Homo sapiens: one gene and its partner. The protein of the gene in region 2 interacts with the protein of the main gene of each other region in a pairwise test. Each region holds a gene or a part of one and is shown on either strand. Other genes may lie near its edges.

What was found.
Region 1: the proteins of SULT1A4 (region 2) and SHMT1 interact in binary tests that used the Homo sapiens proteins (3 or more experiments, as listed by UniProt).

Annotation. Positions count from the first base shown.
Region 1 is NC_000017.11:18,356,797-18,360,550, forward strand, and holds part of SHMT1 (serine hydroxymethyltransferase, cytosolic), read right to left. Parts: exon of another isoform or gene 3,618-3,754; intron 1-3,617. UniProt on the Homo sapiens protein: Interconversion of serine and glycine.
Region 2 is NC_000016.10:29,462,777-29,465,484, reverse strand, and holds the end of SULT1A4 (sulfotransferase 1A4), read right to left. Parts: intron 2,141-2,708; coding exon 2,014-2,140; intron 1,919-2,013; coding exon 1,824-1,918; intron 1,326-1,823; coding exon 1,145-1,325; intron 1,023-1,144; coding exon 910-1,022; 3' UTR 519-909; downstream 1-518. UniProt on the Homo sapiens protein: Sulfotransferase that utilizes 3'-phospho-5'-adenylyl sulfate (PAPS) as sulfonate donor to catalyze the sulfate conjugation of phenolic monoamines (neurotransmitters such as dopamine, (R)-adrenaline/epinephrine, (R)-noradrenaline/norepinephrine and serotonin) and phenolic and catechol drugs.

The sequences.
Region 1 (3,754 bases), on a different chromosome or scaffold from region 2:
TCAGCTCATCTCCCTCAGAAATGAGAACTGACCCTCCTCCCCACCTGCAGGGAGCCCAACTCCGCCTCCTCTCAGCCAAACTTCTCATGGATATAGCTTATCTCCCACAACTAAACTAAGTTCCTTGAAGGTAAGGACTGAGTGCTACTTTTTAAAAAATCTCCTGCGGTACCCAACACTGCTATACATGAAGAATATTTTCCGGCCGGGCACGGTGGCTCACGCCTGCAATCCCAGCACTTTGGGAGGCCGAGGTGGGCAGATCACAAGATCTGGAGTTGGAGACCATCCTGGCCAACCTGGTGAAACCCCATCTCTACTAAAAATACAAAAAATGAGCTGGACGTTGTGGCACATGCCTGTAGTCCCAGCTACTTGGGAGGCTGAGGCAGGAGAATCTCTTGAATCTGGGAGGCAGAGCTTGCAGTGAGCCGAGATCACACCACTGCACTCCAGCCTGGCCATAGAGCAAGACTCCACCTCAAAAAAAAAAAAAAAAAAAAAAAAAAAGAGTATTTTCCAAATGACTGAACAGATGAATCATTGACTTGAAACAATTCCACTGGCAGGGAACTGGCAGGCCCTCATAAAATAGTAAATATTCACTATTTAGCAACTTTTCAAAAGATTTTTTGGGACACACAAGTTAATGATGAACAGGATATAGGCAGTTGGGATCATCTTTCCAGGATGACCACCAGTAGTATTTTATAAATGATAATGTAAGTACAGCAAATAGCACCTATTCACTCAGTCTGGACACATTTCTCCAGGCTCCAGAAAAATGTAAATGGGAGTTTTGCTATAAGAAGGGCCTCAAAAATCTCTGTACGATTTTTGAATACATAAGGACCTCATTTTAATCCTAGCAACACTTTAATGTGTTAATTTATTTCATACTTCAAGTAATGAAATTGAGGCTCAGGGCCAGGCATGGCAACTCACACCTGTAACCCCAGCACTTTGGGAGGCCAGGAGTTCAAGACCAGCCTGGGCATTGCTACAAAAAAAAAAGTTAGCTGGGCATGGTGGGATGGGCCTATAGTCCTACCTACTGAGCTAGGACTCTTTTTTTTTTTTTTTTTGAGACAGAGTCTCACTCTGTCGCCCAGGCTGGAGTACAGTGGCGCGATCTCGGCTCACTGCAAGCTCCACCTCCCGGGTTCATGCCATTCTCCTGCCTCAGCCTCCCAAGTAGCCAGGAACACAGGCACCCACCACCATGCCTGGCTAATTTTTTTTTTATTTTTTCAGTAGAGATGGGGTTTCACCGGTTAGCCAGGATGGTCTCGGCCTCCCAAAGTGCTGGGATTACAGGTGTGAGCCACCGCGCCCAGCCTGGGCTAGGACTCTTAAAAAAAAAAAAAAAAGAACTAAAGAAAGAAAAACGACGTTAGAAAAGTGAAATATTGTGGCTGGGCGCAGTGGCTCATGCCTGTAATCCCAGTACTTTGGGAGGCCGAGGTGGGCGGATCAGGAGGTCAGGAGATCGAGACCATCCTGGCCTACACGGTGAAACCCCATCTCTACTAAAAATACAAAAATTAGCCGGGCGTAGTGGCTCACGCCTGTAATCCCAGCTACTCGGGAGGCTGAGGCAGGAGAATCACTTGAACCTGGGAGTCAGAGGTTGCAGTGAGCCAAGATCACCACTGCACTCCAGGCTGGCAACAGAGCGAGACTCTGTCTCAAAGAAAAGTAAAATATCTTAGCCCAGGGCTGCACAGAAAGTTAGCCACAGAGGCAGGACTCGAAACCCCAAAGCACATGCTCTAAGTAATCCACAGAGTTCCTGTGAAGCTGTTAGTTAAAATATGTACTTGGGCTGGGTGTGGTGGTTCATGCCTGTAATTCCAGCACTTTGGGAGGCTGAGGCAGGAGGATCACTTGAGCCCAGGAGTTCAAGACTGGCCTGGGCAACATGGCAAAGCCCCATTTCTACAAAAAATACAAATTATTAGCTGGTCGTGGTGGCATGCATCTGTAGTCCCAGCTATTCAGGAGGCTGAGGTGGGAGGATCACCTGAGCCTGGAAGCTAGAGGTTGCAATGAGCCGTGATTGTGGCAGTGCATTCCAGCCTGGGTGACAGAGTAAGACCCTGTGTGTGTGTGTTTTTTTCTTTTAAATAAAAAAAGGACTTGTTTGAATATAAATCTTCCTAAAGAATTACAGGTTGGGCTGGGCCCAGTGGCTCATGCCTGTAATCCCAGCACTTTGGGAGGCCAAGGCGTGCGGATCATGAGGTCATAAGTTCGAGACCAGCCTGGCCAACATGACTAAAAATACAAAAATTACCCAGGTGTGGTGGCAGGCACCTGTAACCCCAGCTACTTGGGAGGCTGAGGCAGGAGAATCGCTTGAACCCGGGAGGCGGAAGTTGTAGTGAGCCGAGATCACACCACTGCACTCTAGCCTGGGTGACAAAGCAAGACTCTGTCTCCAGGGGAAAAAAAAAAAAGGGCCTGGTATGGTGGCTTATGCCTGTAATCCCAGCACTTAGGGGAGTCAAGGCAGGAGGATCCTTTGAGCCTAGGAGTTCAACCACAGCCTAGGCAACACAGTGAAACCACGTCTCTACAAAAATTTAGAAATTAGGCTGGGCAAGGTGGCTCACATCTGTAATCCCAGCACTTTGGAAGGCTGAGGTGGGCAGATCAACTTGAGGCCAGGAGTTTGAGACCAGCCTGGCTAACATGGTGAAACCCTGTCTATAGCAAAAATATAAAAAATTAATTGGGTGTGGTGGCACACACCTGAGGCATGAGACTTACTTGAGCCTCAGAGGTGGAGGCTGCAGTGAGCCGAGATTGTGCCACTGCACTCCAGTCTGGGTGACAGAGTGAGACTGTGTCTCAATAAAAAAAAAAAGGCCAGGTGCAGTGGTTCACGCCTGTAATCCCAGCACTTTGGGAGGCCAAGGCGGGCAGACCACAAGGTCAGGAAATCAAGACTGTCCTGGCCAACATGGTGAAACCCCATCTCCACTAAAAATACTAAAATTAGCTGGGTGTGGTGGCGCCCGCCTGTAATTCCAGCTACTCAGGAGGCTGAGGCAGAAGAATGGCTTGAACCCAGGAGGCGGAGACTGTAGTGAGCAGAGATCACACCACTGCACCGCAGCCTGGCAACAAAGCAAGACTCTATCTTAAAAAAAAAAAAAAATTATTTGGCCAGGCACAGTGGCTCACACCTGTAACCCCAGCACTTTGGGAGGCCAAGGCGGGCGGATCACCTGAGGTCAGGAGTTCGAGACCAGCCTGGCCAACACAGCGAAACCCCGTCTCTACTAAAAAATACAAAAATTAGATGGGCATAGTGGTGGGCCCCTGTAATACCAGCTATGCGGGAGGCTGAGGTAGGAAAATCGCTTGAACCCAGGAGGTGGAGGTTGCAGTGAGCCGAGATCATACCATTGCACTCCAGCCTGGGTGACAGAGCAAGACTCCATCACAAAAAAAACCAAAAAGAAATACACAAGGCCAGGCATGGTTGCTTACACTTGTAATCCCAGAACTCTGAGAGGCTGAGACGAGAAGATCACTTGAGCCCAGGCGTTCAAGACCAGCCTAGGCAACATGGCAAAACCCTGTCTCTAAAAAAAAATACAAAAAATTACCCGAGCCTGGTGGCGCACGCCTGTATTCTCAGCTACTCTGGGTGGCTGAGGCAGGATGATCACTTGAGTCCCGGAGGTTGAGGCTGCAGTGAGCCCAGATTTTCCCACAGCACTCCAGCCTGGCCAAGAGAACAAGA
Region 2 (2,708 bases):
AGACAAGGTGGCTGCCCGGGTGAAGGCCGTGGATGGGGATGAGCAGTGGATCCTGGCCGAGGTGGTCAGTTACAGCCATGCCACCAACAAGTGAGTGACACCAGCCCCGGGGCTGCTCTCTGCCCTTCCTGTCCACCTGCCCCACAGCCCCAGGAGGACTATTCTATCCTGTTTGAAGACACCTCCTATGCAGACGGCTACTCCCCTCATCTCAGTGTGGCCCAGAGGTACCTGGTAGCTTCTAAGGAGCCCAAGAAAAAGTGACGCTGCCCGGCGGACTCGACGTCCTCCACCATCTTGGGGCAGGACAGCAGAGGATGTGCTGGGATTAAACAGACATCCCCCCTCCACACATCTCCTGGGTTTTACTTCTCCAAACCCTTCTCCCCTCCCCAGATATGGTGACCTGGGGAGCTGAAGGCTGGGGGAGAGGTGACCATATGTGGCCCCACCGGGCATTCACTCTTTCAGCTCAGAGTTTCTCTTCCTTTCCAATACAGGCTCTACATGAACACAAATCATATTTTATTTTGAGCTTTATTTTCTTTGGAGGGAGGGTCTTGCTTGTCATCCAGGCTGTAGTGAATGGGCATGTCATAACTCACTGTATCCACAACCTCCTGGGCTGAAATGATCCTCCAGCCTCTGCTTCCCAAGTAGCTGGGACTACAGGTAAGTGCCAGCACATGTGGCTAATTTTTTTACATCTTTGTAGAGATGAGGTCTCACTATTTTACCAGGCTGGTCTCAAATTCGTGGCCTATTGTGATCCTACCAGCTCAACCTCCCAAATCGCTGGGATTGCAGACATGAGCCACTGTGCCTGACTCAAAAATCATACTTTATTCTTGAGCCCATTGGTCAGGGTAGATTCGCACACTCCCTCTGCAGTGACTCCAGGAGCCCCTCTCACAGCTCAGAGCGGAAGCTGAGGCTGCAGCCTGCCATCTTCTCCGCATAGTCCGCATCGAAGCGCTCATTCTGCGCCACGGTGAAGGTGGTCTTCCAGTCCCCAGCCATGCCTGGGGGAGGAAGGCAGGGAGCAAAGCTGGAGTCTCATCCCAGGGGAGGCCCCAAGTGCCTATGGGGAGGCTGCAGCTGCTGCTCCCACCCGCCCCAAACCCCCGTGCTGGCCAGCACCCACCTTTCCTCATGAAGGGGGAGATGCTGTGGTCCATGAGCTCCTGGGGGACGGTGGTGTAGTTGGTCATAGGGTTCTTCTTCATCTCCTTGAACGACGTGTGCTGAACCATGAAGTCCATGGTCTCCTCTGGCAGGGAGCGCCCCACAAACTCCAGGATCTTTTGAATCTCCCTTTTGGGGTTCTGAGCAGCAGAGGGCTCCTCAGTGGAGCAAAACAAAACGGGTCCCCCTCTCTAACCTCAGAGGGGATCTGGCCACTTCCCCTAGAAACCCCAAAGAGCCTCAACCCCTGGGGCCCTAGTCTCTGGAGTAAAATGAATTGATCTCTGCCCTGTGATCCCATCATGAACAGGGCTTGGCGCCTATGGGTGAGGACCGGGATGGTCTTCTTCCATGACTGTGGCCCTGGGTGGCACACCCTTTGGTGAGGATAAGCAATAGGACTAAGTATCTGATCCGTGGCCACCCATGCAGCTGACTCAGGTGCAGAAGATGAAAGCTGTGCCGAGCCTGCTGCCAGGTGGGGCTGCAGTGGGGGGGCCTGGGCCAGGGAGGTAGGATGGGGAATCCGGGCTTGCTGTGGGAGCCGCCCAGGGACGGGGCTGGGTGGCCTTGGTGGGTCCCTGTGAGGTGCCTGCCCCCAGGTGTCACATGGGGGGAAGCATCACAGTCGGTCTCACCTCCTTCATGTCTTCATAGAAGAGGTAGAGAACAGGGTGGGTGCGGCTCAGCTCCCACCACTCCTGCACGTGCTGGTACCAGGACCCGTAGGACACTAGAGAAGCGGGCAGGGGGCACCGACACAGGGTTGCTGTACGTTATAGCCACCACCCCTCGGCTTCACACCCTCCTTCCTCCAGTCAAGCCCACCTTCTCCAGCCATGAACTTTTCCAGGAAGCTGTCCCAGGTCCCAGGCTCAGGGTGCGCCTTTTCCATACGGTGGAAATGGTAGTAGGAGACCGCCACGTCCTTTGGGTTTCGGGCAACATAGACCACCTGCAGGGGCAGAGGACCCAGCCCCAGCACCATCACCACACAGCCCACCCCAGGCCAGCTCATCTGTTGAACTGGCAAAGGAGGAACCTGAGGCTTAGAGGCTGACTTGCTTGAGATCTCACTGCACAGGTAGGGCCAAGCTGGGATCTGAACCCTGCTCGGAAGCCAAAGTCCTGCCTGGTTCCTGAGACCATATTCTATACTAATATAATCTGCACCAATGCCATCATATCCTGATCTGGAGCAAGGCATGCCTGGTCCCCACCAGCTCCCCCTCCTCCGCTGACCTGTGAGCACCCACATGCTGCCTTTCTTAAGTGTGCACTGTAGAGACTCACTATCCTTGCATCAGACCCTCATCAGAGCAAGAGGCAGACAGTGTCCTCTCTCAAGATGTGATGAAGGCTGGGCGTGGTGGCTCATGCCTCTAATCCCGGCACTTTGGGAGGCCAAGGTGGCCAGATCACCTGAGGTCAGGAGTTCAAGACCAGCCTGACCAACATGGTGAAACCCCATCTCTACTAAAAATACAAAATTAGCCGGGCGTGGTGGCAGGTACCTGTAATCC